Regions from separate parts of the Homo sapiens genome. Here region 1 is linked to region 2. The links come from fine-mapping of genetic effects on gene expression. A gene starts in region 2. The other region holds a variant in brackets. All regions are shown on one strand. Distances are from middle to middle.

The links. PIP is the estimated chance that this variant, and not a neighbour inherited with it, causes the effect.
Region 1: its variant is fine-mapped to the expression of NAA60 in lung (TOPMed, PIP above 0.99).

What each region holds. Positions count from the first base shown.
Region 1 is chr16:3,487,042-3,495,364 of GRCh38, forward strand. It overlaps C16orf90 (chromosome 16 open reading frame 90), which reads right to left. Exons shown (of 3, transcript NM_001080524.2): 2 at 7,483-7,836; 3 at 6,443-6,946. The coding sequence ends at 6,798. Among named protein-coding and RNA genes, the nearest start is that of C16orf90, 4.3 kb to the right of the region's middle. RefSeq lists an enhancer at 1,048-1,342 and a silencer at 6,007-6,216. The variant A/C (reference allele first, on the strand shown) is at 3,921.
Region 2 is chr16:3,438,796-3,447,118 of GRCh38, forward strand. NAA60 (N-alpha-acetyltransferase 60, NatF catalytic subunit) reads left to right here and starts at 4,885. Exons shown (of 8, transcript NM_001083601.3): 1 at 4,885-5,042. It overlaps ZNF597 (zinc finger protein 597), which reads right to left and starts at 4,709. Exons shown (of 4, transcript NM_152457.3): 1 at 4,565-4,709; 2 at 4,326-4,411; 3 at 2,012-2,138. The coding sequence starts at 4,358. RefSeq lists an enhancer at 4,969-5,118.

The DNA of each region.
Region 1 (8,323 bases), 48 kb after region 2:
GCAAGGCCCAAGGATGGCTTCCAGATAAAGGGGACAGTGGTTTTGTGTGATTAACCCTGTCAGAGAATGAGGACCTTTGGCCAGGCACGGTGGCTCACGCCTGTAATTCTAGCACTTTGGGAGGCCGAAGTGGGCGGATCACGAGGTCAGATCGAGACCAGCCTGGCCAACATGGTGAAACCTCATCTCTACTAAAATACAAAAATTAGCCGGGCGTGGTGGTGTGCACGTGTAGCCCCAGCTACTCGGGAGCCTGAGGCAGGAGAGCTTGAACCCAGGAGGCGGAGGTTACAGTGAGCTGAGATGGCGCCATTGCACTCCAGCCTGGTGACAGAGCGAGACTCCAGAAAAAGAATGTGAAACTGGGGAAGAGGTTCTAGAGTTGAGAAGCACATTAGGTCCTTTTTTCACTGGAAGGTCCCCAGCAGCTGCCCTGTCTGGGCATCTCCCTGGCTGTAGGCCTTGAGCTGGGGCCCAGTCCAGGCAGGCGGCTCCAAGGGTGATTTGGTGCACCCTGCTGTGGAGCCTGAGGTGCGTGCCCACCCAGCACAGACCTGGTGCTTCCGTCAGCCTCTCATGGAAACTTCTGGTCACCCTCAAGGGATGATATTGTTCCTCTTAGAGATGAGGAGAACTGGCTCGGGGGCTGGGAGTTACCAAGGAGCCACAGTTTGTGAGTGTTGGGCCCAGGCCTGGGCCACTCTGAAGCCTGCGTGGCTGCTCTGTTACACCATTCCTGTGCCTTTGACCTCATCCAGTGGCCGGGAGACATGCAACTTGCCGAGGGTCCTCCCAGGAGAGGGTCTGAAGCATCTGCAAGATGGAGTAGGGGTGGACGCTGGTGCCCTGGGAGGCCAGGCAGCTGGGCGCGCTGGACCCATGTCCAAAGCCATGGGGTGAGTGAAACCAGATTAACCCGCTGAGCTTGCCCACGGGAGCGTCTGCTGGGGAGACACAGTCTTGGTTACTCCAGCAAGGACAGTTGCACCTTTGCTGATGAGTCAGCTTGCGGTTAAGAGGGTAACTCTTTGGGGCCCTTGGTCAATCGTGTGACCAGTTAGTAACTTGCCCAGGTGGGGCTGCGGCTCCTCAGGCCCTGCTTCAGTGAGGCCAGGCAGGACTGCCACTGCTCCAGGCCTCTCACCATAGCCCCACCGGACCGCAGAGCTGGGACACAAACGCTCGTGCTCCACTGGGGGGCAGAAAGGGAGTGTGGGACCCAGGGAGAGGTAGGACACACACAGGATGCACCTGGACATAGCACGGAGGCCAGCCCTGAACGGAGCTGGCTCTGCCCCAGGCCTGCTCAGGGGTGGAGCCCGAGGCAGCCTTGGGTCTCCCCGCTCCCTGCACACACCACCCAAGGATCTCCTATAGGGTAGGGGTCCTTCATACTTTCAGGACGGAGACAGACTCCTGGTCTTCCATTCCTAGCCCACCGGCGTTCAGGGACTCACGGGGTAAGGGGCGTGCCCAGGGATGGTCAGTGTATTTTCTTTTTTTTTTTTTTTTTTGAGATGGAATCTCATTCTGTTTGCACTCCAGCCTGGGTAACAGAGTGAGATCTTGGCTCACTGCCAGCTTGGCCTCCCGGGTTCACGCCATTCTCCTGTCTCAGCCTCCCGAGTAGCTGGTACAACAGGCGCCTGCCACCATGCCCGGCTATTTTTTTGTATTTTTAGTAGAGACGGGGTTTCACCATGTTAGCCAGGATGGTCTCGATCTCCTGACCGCGTGATCCGCCCGCCTCGGCCTCCCAAAGTGCTGGGATTACAGGCATGAGCCACCGCGTCCGGCTGAGGTCAATGTGTATTTTCATGAGCGTCCGCTTGCTCAGGCCAAGTGCTGCTTTCTCCACATCGACTCCCACCCCAGCGTGCCATGATTGTGGCTTTTTTGCCTCTCAGTCTGTTGGAGTGCTTCTCAAAAAGGCTTTGGGAGGTTTTGCGGGAGGGACTGTCTAGAGGCCAATTTAGGGCCAGTTTTCTTTGGGGCCAGCATGTGGCTGCAGCAGATGTCCTCTCGGGTAAGATCCTGGCTACAGCTGTCTGTGGCTGAGTTACAGACTGTCTTTTTTTTTTTTTTTTTTTTTTTTTTTTTTTTTGAAACGGAACCTGCTCTCTCCCCCAAACTGGCGTCCAGTGGCGTGATCTCGGCTCACTGCAAGCTCCGCCTCCCGGGTTCACACCATTCTCCCGCCTCAGCCTCTGGAGTAGCTGGGACTACAGGGGCCCGCCACCATGCCTGGCTAATTTTTTTTGTATTTTTAGTAGAGATGGGGTTTCACCGTGTTAGCCAGGATGGTCTCGATCTCCTGACCTCGTGATCTGCCCACCTCGGCCTCCCAAAGTGCTGGGATTACAGGCATGAGCCACCGTGCCTGCCGGAGTAACAGACTGTCTTAAAGCTTCACAGCCTAAGCAGGGGCCATTCTGTTTGCTTCCAATTCCAGCTGGGACAGGAGTCAGCAGGGACTCCATGTGGTATTAGCCAGGCAGGCTGGCGGGGCTGGAGGACCTGTGTGAAAGATGGCCCTACCCACAGGGCTGCCCACAGTGAGCTCAGCAGTGGCCATGGGCTTGGCTCCTTCCTTCCATGGCTTCCTCAGGCTAGGCTGGTTTTGCACCATACCACAGTCCCAGGGTAGACTCCTTACGGGGCCACTGACCTCCTGGGAAGCTGCCAGGCTTCCTTACTGCCCAGAAGTGACACCCCGCCACTTCTGCCACATTCTACTGGTAAAGCAGGATCTGGAGCCTGTCCCAATTCAAGGGGAGGGGGCTACACAGGGGCCAGAACACGAAGACACGTGGCTCATCCGGGGTAGCAGAAGGGCCACTGACCATAGCCTGGGACCCCCCCCCCCACCCACCCAAAATCTGGAGCCTGGGGCAACCTGTGCTCCTCTCTGAGCCTCCACTCTTTGTTCAGAAGTGAGTGGAGTCCAGGTGCGGTGGCTGATGCCTGTAATCCCAGTACTTCAGGAGGCCAAGGTGGGAGGATCTCTTAAGCTCAGGGGTTCAAGACCAGCCTGGGAAACATAGTGAGACCCTCATCTCTTAAAAAAATAGAAAATCGGCCAGGCGCGGTGGCTCACACTGGTAATCCCAACACTTTGGGAGGCCGAGGAGGGCAGATCACGAGGTCAGGAGATCGAGACCATTCTGCCTAACACGGTGAAACCCCATCTCTATTAAAAATACAAAAAATTAGCCGGGCGTGGTGGCGGGCGCCTGTAGTCCCAGCTACTCAGGAGGCTGAGGCAGGACAATGGTGAACCCAGGAGGCGGAGGTTGCAGTGAGCCGAGATCATGCCACTGCACTCCTGCCTGGGCGACAGAGCAAGACTCCGTCTCAAAAAAAAAAAAAAAAAAAAAAAAAAAAAAAAAAAGCTGGGCATGGTGGTGGCCCACGCCTGTAGTCTCTGCTACTCAGGAGGCTGAGATGGTAGGGTCACTTGGCTCAGGAGCTCAAGGCTGCAGTGAGCTATGATTGTTAAACATAGGGCCCAGCGTGGAGCCTCACCTATAATCCCAGCACTTTAGGAGGTGGAGGCGGGAGCATTGCTTGAGGCTGGGAGTTGGAGACCAGGGGCAACATAGCAAGACCCTTTCTCTACCAAAAAAAAGTTTGTAATTAGCTGGACATGGTGGCAACTGCCTTTGGTTCCAGCTACTCAGGAGGCTGAGGCAGGAAGATCACTTGAGGCCAGGAGTTCAAGGCTGCAGTGAGTTAAGATCATGCTACTGCACTCCAGGCTGGGAGACAGTGAGACACTGTCTCAAAAAAAAGAAAAGGGGAAAAAAAGTGGATTAGGCCCCTAACGGTCTCCAAGCTCCAAGGACTTTGTATTGCTGGCCTCTGTGCGGCCTCAGTTATGCCCAGCGTCCGCAGCTGGTGGCTGGTGCAGGCGTCCTTCC[A/C]TGTTTACTCAGCAGCCTCCCTAATGTCAGTCTTTAAGTGGTCTCTTGGATCCACCTGGCCTCTGCGTCTCTGGGGAATGAGTGTTGTGGGAGAGAGAGAAGGCAGCTGCCCCTCCGCCACCCCATGTGACTCATCAGTGGACCTCAGGCCCGCTGCATCCCACCCACACCTGCCCCATCACAGCTGCTCTTGGGTGCAGCATGTAAACACCTGCTCTCTCAGAGCTCCCCCTCCTGGGGACCGCTACAGCCTTGGGTGTCCCCCACCCCGGGCCATGCCTGCATACTTAGAACAACCCATAAAACCACCCAAGGACTGAAGTCTCCAGGATCTGCTGTCCCAGGGACACAAGAACTGTCCAGGGTGGGTACAGGAGAAGGGAAGGAGCCTGGCTGTCCTGGGCACGTCACATGCGACCTGGCAGGAGCCCAAAGCAGGGGTGGCGCTGAGCCCTAGCCTGACCCGGGCTGCACCGGCTGGAGTGACCAGACGGGAAGGTCACTGAGGCAAACCCAGGTGCTCCCGTCTTCTTCCCATAGGATGGAGACCTGGTGGAATAGAACAAGTGTGTTAGTCCGTCTTGACACTGCTTCCTGAGACTGGGTTATTTATAAACAAAAGAGGTTTAATTGATTCAGCGTTCCAGGTGTCTGGGAGGCCTCAGGAAACTTACAATCACCATGGAAGGCAAAGGGGAAGCAGGCACCTTCTTGGCAAGGCGGCAGGACAGAGAGAGAGAGAGGCGGTGGTGGGGAGGAAGGGTGGAACTGCCAAACACATTTTATTATTTTTTTCTTTTTTTGAGACAAGAGTCTCACTCTATCACCCAGGCTGGAGTGCAGTGGCACAATCTCGGCTCACTGCAAGCTCTGCCTCCCGGGTTCATGCCATTCTCCTGCCTCAGCCTCCTGAGTAGCTGGGACTACAGGCAGCTGCCACCATGCCCGGCTAATTTTTGTATTTTTAGTACAGACAGTGTTTCACCGTGTTAGCCAGGATGGTCTTGATCTCCTGACCTTGTGATCCGCCCGCCTCAGCCTCCCAAAGTGTTGGCATTACAGGCGTGAGCCACTGCACCTGGCCCACCGCCAAACACTTTTAAACCATCAGATCTTGTGATAACTCACTATCATGAGAGCAGCATGGCGGAACCCCCCACCCCCCACCCCATGATCCAATCACCTCCCATGAGAACCCTCCCTCAACACATGGGGATTACAATTGGAGATGAAATTTGGGTGGGGACACAGCCTAACTGTATCAGCAGGCTTCTCATCCACAGTAACAGTGCTCCCGAGGGACACCGGACAATGTCTGGAGACACTTGCTGTCACAGCTTAGAGGAGGGTGCTACAGATACCAAGTGGGTGGTGGCCAGAGATGCTGCTTAACATCCTACATGCACAGGACAGCCTCCATCCCAAAGAAAGATCCCATCCCAAACATCAACAGAGTCGAGTGGAGACACCCCGGCACAGAGGAAGCCCACACCTGGGTGCGCAGAGTCTGGTCCGGCTGGGAGGAGAAGGGCTGTGCTCATCCTGCCCAGAGGGACCTGGGAGCTGGGGTCCCGCGGAGCAGTGACCTCACCTGGTAGGGGGCAGGTGGGGCCGAGGTCCACATCCCTGCCTCTGCTGCTGTCCTCCCTGGTGCCCTCCCTGACCCCGCCCTGCCTTCCTTCATCCGCTGCGCCCTCCACCCACAATGCCATGGCCTGCATTTAGGATCCTCCTGAGGCAGGAGGATCACTTGAGCTCAGGAGTTTGAGACCAGCCTGGGCAACAGCAGGACCCCCTCCCCCCAACTCTTAAAACAACAGAAAATTAGGCCGGGCACGGCGGCTCACGCCTGTAATCCCAGCACTTTGGGAGGCTGAGGTCAGGAGATGGAGATCATCTTGGCTAACACGGTGAAACCCCGTCTCTACTAAAAAAATACAAATAAATTAGCCGGGCGCGGTGGCGGGCGCCTATAGTCCCAGCTACTCGGGAGGCTGAGGCAGGAGAATGGCGTGAACCTGGGAGTTGGAGCTTGAAGTGAGCCGAGATTGCACCACTGCACTCCAGCCTGGGCCACAGAGCAAGACTCCGTCTCAAAAAAAAAAAAAAAAAAAAGACAGTCTGTAACTCAGCCACAGACAGCCGTAGCCAGGATCTCACCCCTGAGAAGGACATCTGCTGCAGCCACATGCTGGCCCCAAAGAAAACTGGCTCTAAATTGGCCTCTAGACAGTTCTAGACTGCATCTCAAAAAAAAAAAGAAAAGAAAATTAGCCAGGCATGGTGGCTGAAAAGGTGGGCTGTTGAGCCCCTACCCACCCTATGGAGCCAAGCTCAGCAGTGTCTCATCCAGGAAGCTCTCACAGACAAGTATGGTGTTCCCACAGGCCCTTGCCCTAGCTCACGCCTCTCATGCCCTGGCAACTAAGAGTGGGGGCGCGGCAGACCCATCCCTGGAGAGACACAGGACTGTTTTTCTCACCAAACTGGCCTGATGACAGACAGGCAGATGGACAAGAACGTGCAGGCCTTGGCTTTTATTGAGATCAGAGCTGTGGGCTCCCCGGCCTCTCAGGGAGGCGGTGGCGGGGGGGCCTGATTCTGCACTCAGCCCGGCCTCCCAGGTACAAGTGGCTGACTGGAGTCTAAGCAGGCTGCAAGGGCACGGCCATGCTTCTATTGCTTCTGCCCCTCCCTCGGAACCTCCTCCTCCTCCCTCTCCCCATCACATTCTCCCGAGGCCCAGGCCTGGGCGCTGGGCCGCTGCCTGGGCCACCCCATGTGGCAGGGCCACTGCCGGGGGCCGAGCCCCTCCTGCTCAGGCTGCCTCCTCGGCCATCCTGCCCCTCCTGTACCCAGTCCTGGCACTCGGGATCCCTATGGCCTCTCCAGGGCCCCAGAGCGGGTTCTCTTGCACAAGGGACACATGGCCTCTTCCCAGGTCCCCCAGGACCTCTTGGGCCTGAGCCTAGAAGGACTAGGCTGGGGGAGGGCACCCTTGTCTGGGTCCATGCTGGAACTGGAAGCTGAGGAAAGAGGAGAGAAAGGAGTCACTTGAGGGACCCAAGGGGAGGCTGGGGGGGAGGCTGGCAGCCCACCCTGGGGTTTCCAGAATCCGATATTCTTGAAAACAGAAGGGAGGAGGGCAATGCTTCCTCCTTAACAGAATCCCCAGGGGAGGGAGGAGGTTGAGGGAACAGAATGGTTCAAGCTGGAAGGACCCTCATCTAACCTGAACCCTCATTTTACAAGTGAGAAAACTGAGGCCCAGCAAGGGAGACAGATTCCAAGGCCCCTCACCGAGTGTGGAGCTGGGGCAGTCACCCAGCCCTCCCTCCCAGATCCTCCCTTTTTCTCGCACCGCTTTGTCCCTGGTGGATTCTCCAGACCCCGCTTAGCTGTGCGTGATGCAGAGATGGGGACAGATTCATCAAGATCTTGGCCTTCTGGGGCATGGTGCCACTGTGGAGGCTTGGGAGTGGAGAAGGGCCCGCCTGAGGCCCCAGCCCAACCATCCCCTAGGGTCTTCCCCCGTGCCCAGTCCTGCCTTGACAGAGCTCACCACTGCTTCCCAGGCTGTCCCTGGGCAATCGGGCTTCCAGAAGGGCTGAACAGAGGCTGTTACGTGGGCCCAGAGTCCCCTGTGGCAGGTCCAGGGCCCAGGCTGTGCCCTCAGGCTGTGGCAGGCAGCCCCCAGCCATAAGCCGGCCCAGCCAGTGGCTCTCACACTGGCCAGTGGGTGGCGGGTGGCTCTCCAGGTAGAGGCCCAGGCCCCGGAGGTGGCGCAGCCGGAAGTTCTTGGGCTTGCTTCCCTGGGCACTGGGGCACTGCGGCTGCGGGGACCCCAGGCCCCCCTCGTAGATGTTGGGGGGTGCGTCAGGGTGGCCGGGGCGTCCTTGGGCCTGGCTCACTGCATCTGCAGAGGAGACAGCGGGAGGGTGGTGGCCAGCCCCCCACAGCAGCCATGAGGGGAGGGTGCAGTCACATACCTCTGAGACCAGCTCACATGATGGGCTACACCCCCAGCCAACCTGGCCTCAGTTTACCTGTGTGTCAAATAGTCTCAGTCCACTGCCTCCCCTGCCCATGCCCAAGACACGACTCCTCTTCCCACTCCCAACCAACAGGGAGGCCTGGGAAGCCTCGGGCCTTGGTACTAAGAGTGCTTTCAGGACCTCAAGTCCTTTCTACTACCCTGTTCTGCCCGCTACCCTAGGAAGAGTATTCTGGTCCCCACAGAGAAATTGCACAGTGGGTTTGAGAGAAAGTGGCCAGCCCAGGGGCTCATGGCCTGGCCCAGTGGCCATTCCCCTCTCCCAAGCATACATGTCCCTGAGGCCACCCCTCGGCTTTGGGCCCAGGTGGGGACAGAAGCCTATCTCTCTTCCTGCCACTCCTCCCCA
Region 2 (8,323 bases):
ATTCCTGTGTAATATTTTCCAAGTATTCTTCAGTTATAAAGCAAATATATCAATACAAAAGGAACTTTTCTTTCCAGAGAAACAAAGTTCTACAGTTTTCCCAACTCACTGACTAGAAAGGGCTGCAGTATAGTTCATGGGAATCCAAACAGTACCAAGTGGTTTTGCTGATTTGAGGGGACTGAGTTCAGAGATCAGGGATGCCAAGGCAGCTAGAATTTGAAAGCAAAACAGCAAAGAGGCAGCTGTTCAGAAAGAGAGCTCAGGTCATCTACATGGGGTCCCCTTAAGACTTTCCTGAGGCTAGGTACAGTGGCTCAAACCTGTAATCCCAGCACATTGGGAGGCTGAGGTGGGAGAATTGCTTGAGCCACGGAGCTCGAGACCAGCCTGGGCAACATGGCAAAGCCCCATCCCTACAAAAAAAAAACAACAAAAAAAGACAAGCATGGTAGTGCATGCCTGTAGTCCCAGCTACTTGGGAGGCTGAGGTGGGAGGACTGCTTGAGCCTGGGAGGTCAGGGCTGCAGTGAGCCGTGATTGTGCCACTGCACTCCAGCCTGGGTGACAGATCAAGATACTGTATCAAAAAAAAAATAACCCCACAACTTTGGCTGAGTAGTAATCTACAAGTGCATGAAGAAACTACCCAATGCCGTGGAAAGAACCACCTAAAAGGAATAACAGAGCAATAACCAGTTCATGTTGCCTCCAGCCAAAGTGGAAAGACATAAGACATTGAGCAGCAACGTCCACAGAAAAAAACTGCCTTAGCAGTAACTCAAATAAGTCCTAGCAGAAAGGTTGATCTGAACCTATCCTAACAAAGCAAAAAAAAAAAGCACACCTTGAAACAGTCAAACTGACTCCAAGTAACTTAACTGCCTCCCACAACAAAGTCCAAAATATTTTTAAAAATACAACGAAATCCCGGGTCCAACAACATAAAATTCTTAATCTAACATCCGACCAAAATTTACCCAGGAAGTAAAGAAAATATAGAAAATATAACCCATAACTAGAAGACAAATCAATCAATAGAAACAGACCCAGAAATGACATCAATGTTAAAACTAGCAAGAAAAAAAAGTTTAAATAACCATTATAAATATACTCCATACATTTACGCAGACAGAAGACAACATGAACATGATGAAGAGAGAAGTGGAAGAAACAAAATATGAGTTATTCAGAATAACTAGTTACTCTAGTTATTTTTTTCTGACTAGGATTGAGTATCTCAACTATTCCAAACTATTTAGAATAACTACTTAGAATAGATAGTTTAGATACTCAATCCTAGTCAGAAATAAAATCTAGTCAGGCACAGGAGTCCATCTGTGTATGGTTCCCCTTAGGTGAGTAAGGCATAGCACCCCTTAAGAGTAAATCAATCTCCAGTCTTTAGCAAATGATAGTGATCGATACTAATGGGATTTCCCAAGTAAAATTGTAAACTGCAACAAATGTTTGTGAAAGATTACCAAATACTGCCATCTCTTGTACTAAACCACAGGCACTGTACTAGACTGAATTTTTGTCTTTAAGAGATCATCTCGGCCGGGCTCAGTGGCTCATGCCTGTAATCCCAGCACTTTGGGAGGCCGAGGCGGGTGATCACAAGGTCAGGAGATTGAGACCATCCTGGCTAACACGGTGAAACCCTGTCTCTACTAAAAATACAAAAAATTAGCTGGGCATGGTGGCAGGCGGCTGTAGTCCCAGCTACTCGGGAGGCTGAGGCAGGAGAATGGCGTGAACCTGGGAGGCGCGGTTTGCAGTGAGCAGAGATCGTGCCACTGCACTCCAGCCTGGGCAACAGAGCGAGAGTCTGTCTCAAAAAAAAAAAATCATCTCATATTTTAAAACTTTTTCTCTCACACAATTATCACCTCCACATAAATTACTGAGGGACAGGTCCCACTCCACCATACCAACATCTGGATAAAGCATGAAGTTCTCCTCCTAGAATTGACAAAAGTTCCAGATGCAGGAAAAACAATTGCCTTACCCATCAAAGCCGCATCCTCCAAAGACTCTTTTGTACCATCTTTGCTGAGGGACCTCTGGGCAGGGTGCAGAGTCACGCACTCCTCTTGAGAAAAATACACAGCCAGATCCTCAAAGAGTATTGGTCCCTGAAACACAAGAGCCTGTGTCAGCACAAGAGGGTGGAGGGTCAGCCCCTCACTTAACCTAGGAAGGATGAAAAGAGCTAGAAACATCAGATGCACGGGATAAAAGGCTCGGTGTAAAAGGTTCTTGAGCGCAGAAGTAGGGCAAATGGGTTCTAAGGGGTGGGGTGAGGGTTGGGAAGAAGAGAGTAAACATGGACATACATTTTTAGGCAGTGGTACAAGGACGGTGGACTGTGAGAATTATTGTCTATCTTGAAAGAGAAAAGATGAGGGAATGGCTCTTAGGGAGGCAACCATTAAGTGAGGATGCTCTAAGAAAAGGAGAGGTTTGGGGCCGGGTGTGGTGGCTCATGCCTGTAATCCCAACACTTTGGGAGTCTGAGGGGGATGCAGATGACTTGAGGTCAGGTGTTCGAGACCAGCCTGGCCAATATGGTGAAACCCTGTCTCTACTAAAATTACAAAAATTAAGGCTGGGCACAGTGGCTCACGCCTGTAACCCCAGCACTTTGGAAGGTGGAGGCGAGTGGATCACCTGAGGTCAGGAGTTCAAGACCAGCCTGACCAACATGGTGAAATTCTGTCTGCACTAAATACAAAAAATTAGCCAGGTGTGGTGGCGCATGCCTATAATCCCAGCTACTTGGGAGGCTGAGGCAGGAGAATCATTTGAACCTAGGAGAAAGAGGTTGCAGTAAGCCGAGATTGCACCATTGCACTCCAGCCTGGGCAACAAGAGTAAAACTCCGTCTCAAGCAGAGCTTGCAGTGAGCTGAGATCGTGCCACTGCACTCCAGCCTGGGCAACAGAGCGACACTCCATCTCAAAAACAAAAACAAAAACAAAACAACAACAAAAAAAACTCTGTCTCAAAAAATAAATTAAAATAAAATGAAATTAGCCAGATGTGGTGGCATGCGCCTGTAGTCCCAGCTACTTGGGAGGCTGGGCCAGGAGAATCGTTTGAATCCAGGAGGCAGAGATTGCAGTGAGCCGAGATCGCGCCATTGCACTCCAGCCTAGGCGTCGCAGCGAGACTGTCTCAAAAAAAAAAAAAAAAAGAAAAGAAAAGGAGAAAGTTGGGCAGCCCAGGAAGAATCATAAAGAGATAAAGGTTACAGGATTCTCCCAACATCCTTCCCTTTGCTATTTCCTCTCGTCCCCATGACACTCATTGCTAAGCTCACTCCAGCACTTCATCCAGGCCTACCCCACCTTCTCTAACGGTGTGATAAATTAATCACTTGGGATTTATTATTACTCAACGAGTGTGGAGTCTAGAAATGTGCTTAATTTAAAAATTCATTCAAATTGGAGAAGTACCAAATCTGTAATTTTGGGAACCATTCCAGAAAGTCACTTTTAATCCTAGCACTTTGGGGAGCCGAGGTGGGAGGATAGCTGAAGGCCAGGAGTTCCTTGGCAAAGCAGCAAGACTCCATCTCCATAAAGAAGTTTTAGGCCGGGCGCAGTGGCTCACACCTGTAATTCCAGCACTTTGGGAGACCGAGGCGGGCGGATCACAAGGTCAGGAGATTGAGACCATCCTGGCTAACACGGTGAAACCCCGTCTCTACTAAAAATACAAAAAATTAGCAGGGCGTGGCGGCAGGCGCCTGTAGTCCCATCTACTCGGGAGGCTGAGGCAGGAGAATGGCATGAACCCGGGAGGCGGAGCTTGCAGTGAGCCGAGATCGCGCCACTGCACTCCAGCCTGGGCGACAGAGCGAGACTCTGTATCAAAAAAAAAAAAAAAAGAACTTTTAAAAGTAGCCAGACACTGTGGTATGCGCGCCTCTCAGATACTCGAGAGGCTGAGGCGTAAGGATTCCCTGAGTTCCAGACGGAGCTATGATATCAGCACTGCACTCCAGCCAGACAAGCAACACTCCAGCGACAAGGCCAGACCCTATCTCCAAACAAAACAAAACAAACAGATAAGACATTGAGAAACTCTCTCAGAGATTCCTCCACAGGTCCCTGCTCCCAGTTGGTAGTTCTGAAAGAAGGAAGTTGGTAAACCATTATGTGTGTGGTCTTGGAACGAAGAACACTTGGTCAAAGGGCTATTTGGGGCTCAGGAGCACTCCTACCACAACAGGCATGCCCAACTCTCCTCCAAAGGAGGGGGTCAGGCAGAGACCGAAAGCAGCAATAAACTTGGACGAAAAAGGTACCTCGACTCACCTGGGCCTCGGGCGTCGGGGGCATGGACGCCATTTGGCGGGTGGGGAATGCCTTCTTCAAGACGCCACAGGGACTTCGTGACAAAGCTGCGGGGGGAGAGAACAGTTCTTAAAGGGACCAATTCCGCTGCCAAGTTCCTCCACTACCCCTAGCCTCCCTCGATTCCCTCCGAACCCCCCCTTAAAAACCTACGCCGACTGCTCCTCCTCTTGGCCCGGCCTCGAAAGGGGCCCACTTACCGCTCCGCGGTTAATAACAGGCCTCGCGCTCCCTGACAGGAGCTGCAGAAAGCGACGCCCGACCGAGACGCGACGAAGAACGCCACGGCCACTGCAAAACTCCCACGCTCTCATGCTCCTTTACGCAGGAGCTGCGGGAAAAGCCGCCGGAAGCGACCCGCCCTCAGCCCTCTCCGCCATCCTGCCCTTTGATTGGTCGAAGTTCTCCCGAAGGGGAAGTCCTTCTTTTGTGTTGACCAATTGAACACCTTAACCGAGGACCTGTAGCCACTGGGCAGCTGCGAGAGGTAGTTTTCCTCCTTTTCTCTAAGCAACCATTTCCGCTTCCGCTGGCGGGGTCTCCTCCGTGAGCTCCGGGCCTGTTTGCCTGCTGAAGTAGAGTCTTAGGGTGACCCCAGGGGGACGTAATGTTTCCGAGAAGAAGGACAGAAAGAAGACTGGGAGACACCGGAACTCGAAAGAAAATCGGTAACAAAATGTGGGTTCGGCCAACAGTGCCCTGTAGGCCTGAAATTTCGGTCTGGCCAGAGCAAGGTGATTGAGAGGGCGGGGGTTCGGGCCTAGCCTGGGCTTGAGCTGTCCTTTGTGTCTTGAGCGGATGGTGGGGCCGTGGAACATGAAGGAGTATCTTTGTGTACGTTCACAACGTTCACATCGGTGTAGGCCAGGTTGCTGGACTCTGACTCAAAGTGTTATAGAGGCATTACGTATTGTACCCGCAGCTGCAGCCTAAGCGAGCTGCTTCAGCTTCCTAGTCACAGGATCCCACGCGAGAATAGAGCCATAGGTTAGCGTCGCAGGACGTTGTTCGCCCCCGGATACCTCACATGCAGCCTACCCTAGAGCCAGTCATTTCCTATTGTGTGCTGGGGGAGGAGGGAGTGCCCTGGTGTAGGCATTTGGAATTGGAAAATTGAGCTCCTCCCCAAGCTCTGCCACTGATTGGTTGGTAATCTTGGCCAGTTTACAACTTTGCTTTCCTCAGCTGCAAACAGCTCAGAGTGCCTCTCTGGGCTAACTCAGAGGGTAATTTCAAAGATTATAAGATAATGTAAGTGAAAGAAATTGCCAGTTTATAAAGGTGTTTGGGGAAAAAAAAAGACGAAAATGATAGGTACCTTGATAGAAAAGCCTGAAAAGTCTCAACATATTTCCTTATTCCAGTGCCAGGCACATTCCTGTATCTAAAAGCTTAATGAATGGCTGCATGGTTATTAAAACAATATTAGGAGATTTGACAACTTAGGTAATGTGATTTTGTGGAATATCTGATAGGATAGTTTCAGCTACAAGTAACAGAAAACCCACCGAAAGGATGTTCAAAGAGCAGTTACAGGTTGGTTAATTCGGTGGCCCAGTGACAACATCAAGGTCCCAGTGCTTCTCTGCCACCCTAAGCATGTTGGTAACGTTGACAATAGAATCCAGGTAAAATATACAGACATGTATTGTGTCATGTACCCATCCTAAACTAGTTATTACCAAGAATAAATAATTGTTTGGGGCCCATCATGCTTCAGCCCCTGTCACTAGGGGAAGGACCTAGCCTCCCTTGATAATCTACCTGCACAAAATTAGGGCTTTGTTACAAATGAAAAAAAGAGATGTGGAAAATAAGTTAGATAAGAAACTAGCAGTATCTGCCACAAATGATATCTCTTGACAGCTAACTAAGAGCTAGACCTTGTGGGGATGGATCACAAAAGAGGTAGCTGTGAAGTCCCAGTAAAGGTGCTTCCAGGACAGGTGGAAGAATGGTAAGAACAAACTTGCCTACAGGCTAGACCAGTCCAAAGCATATATGTTGAAGAAGAGCTAATAGCCTGTATATGAAGGTGTAAGTAAAGGAGATGTTCATGGTTGAGTCACTGTGGTGTTCACGTAGTCATCTTTCCCTTCTTGGTTTGTGCTTATCTCTTTTTTTTTTTTTTTTTTGAGACAGTCTCACTCTGTAGCCAGACTGGGGTGCAGTGGCACAATCCTGACTCACTGCAACCTCTGCCTCCGGGGTTCAAATGATTCTCCTGCCTAAGCCTCCTGAGTAGCTGGGACTACAGGTGCCCGCCACCACGTCCGGCTAATTTTTTTTTTTTGTATTTTTAGTAGAGATGGGGTTTCATCATGTTGGCCAGGATGGTCTCGATCTCGTGACCTCATGATCCACCTCGGCTTCCCAAAGTGCTGGGATTACAAGCGTGAGCCACCGCGCCCCGCCTATTTAATGCTATTCTTACATCAGCACTGTCTCATTGTGGTCTGAGATTCTCCTTATCTGGATTTGTGGCTCTTTCACCAAGAACAAGAGACTCCCGTGGCTCTCTTCTTTAAATCCTGTTGCCATAATTACAAAGAAATAAACACAGTTTCCAATGCTTTGAAATGAAGCATGTGGTATTAACTCAGTGGATTACCAGAGAGAGAGGGATATACCTGAAATGGGAGAGGAAAAAATCTTCCCTAGACTATCTTTCCTAAGAGCCATCAAAACTATAAACAAGTGGACAAAGAAGGAGGAAGCTTGAAAGCTTTATCTTCCTGAAAATAAAGAGATGACATACAAAGTCCAAGATAGACCAAGATTGAAAAATTAGACCACATTATATCCCTAACTCAATTTTGTAAAAAATCACAAATGCTTGACTGTATACCCACTATATGTTCAAGTAACATGTTTTAATCATCAAAATTTAAAAATCCTTCCACGACAATCTTTTGCAAGTTTTTCCATTTCTGTCTTTAACATGGTACCAGTAATAACAACTACAACCTGTTTGTATTGAAATTATTTCTATAGCCCAGCATCTGCTTTCTCTGAAAATTATCTTTTTAAAAATAGTAAAACTAACATCATTACAAAAGTAGTATATGTGCATTTCAGAAAGTTAGGAAAGGCTGGGTGCGGTGGCTCACGCCTGTAATCCCAGCATTTTGTGAGGCTGAGGTGGGCAGATCACAAGGTCAGGAGATCGAGACCATCCTGGCTAACACGATGAAACCCCATCTATACTAAAAATACAAAAAATTAGCCAGGCGTGGTAGCGGGCACCTGTAGTCCCAGCTACTCGGGAGGCTGAGGCAGGAGAATGGCGTGAACCTGGGAGGCGGAGCTTGCAGTGAGCCGAGATCACACCACTGCACTCCAGCCTGGGTGACAGAGTGAGACTCTGTCTGAAAAAAAAAAAAAAAAGAAAATACAGGGGAAAAAATGGCAACACATTCCTGTCACCCAGAGATCACCACTATTTACTCTTTATTATTTGTTTTTTTTTTTTTGAGACAGTCTCACTGTTGCCCAGGCTGGAGAGCAGTGGTGCGATCTCTGCTCACTGCAACTTCCGCCTCCTGGGTTCAAGTGATTCTTGTGCCTCAGCTACCAGAGTAGATGAGATGATGGGCAGATGCCACCACAACCATTTAATTTTTGTATTTTTAGTAGAGATGCAGTTTTGCCATGTTGGCCAGGCTGGTCTCAAACTCCTGGCCTCAAGTGATCCGCCCATGTCAGCCTCCCAAAGTGCTGGGATTACAGGTATGAGCCACCGCACCTGGCCTGCTCACTGCAACCTCCATCTCCCAGGTTCAAGCAATTCTTCTGGCTCAGCCTCCCGAGTAGCTGGGACTATAGGTGCGTACCACCACACCTGGCGAATTTTTGTATTTTTAGTAGAGGACGGGTTTTCCCCATATTGGCCAGGCTGGTCTCGAACTCCTGACCTTGTGATCTGCCCGCCTTGGCCTCCCAAAGTGCTGGGATTACAG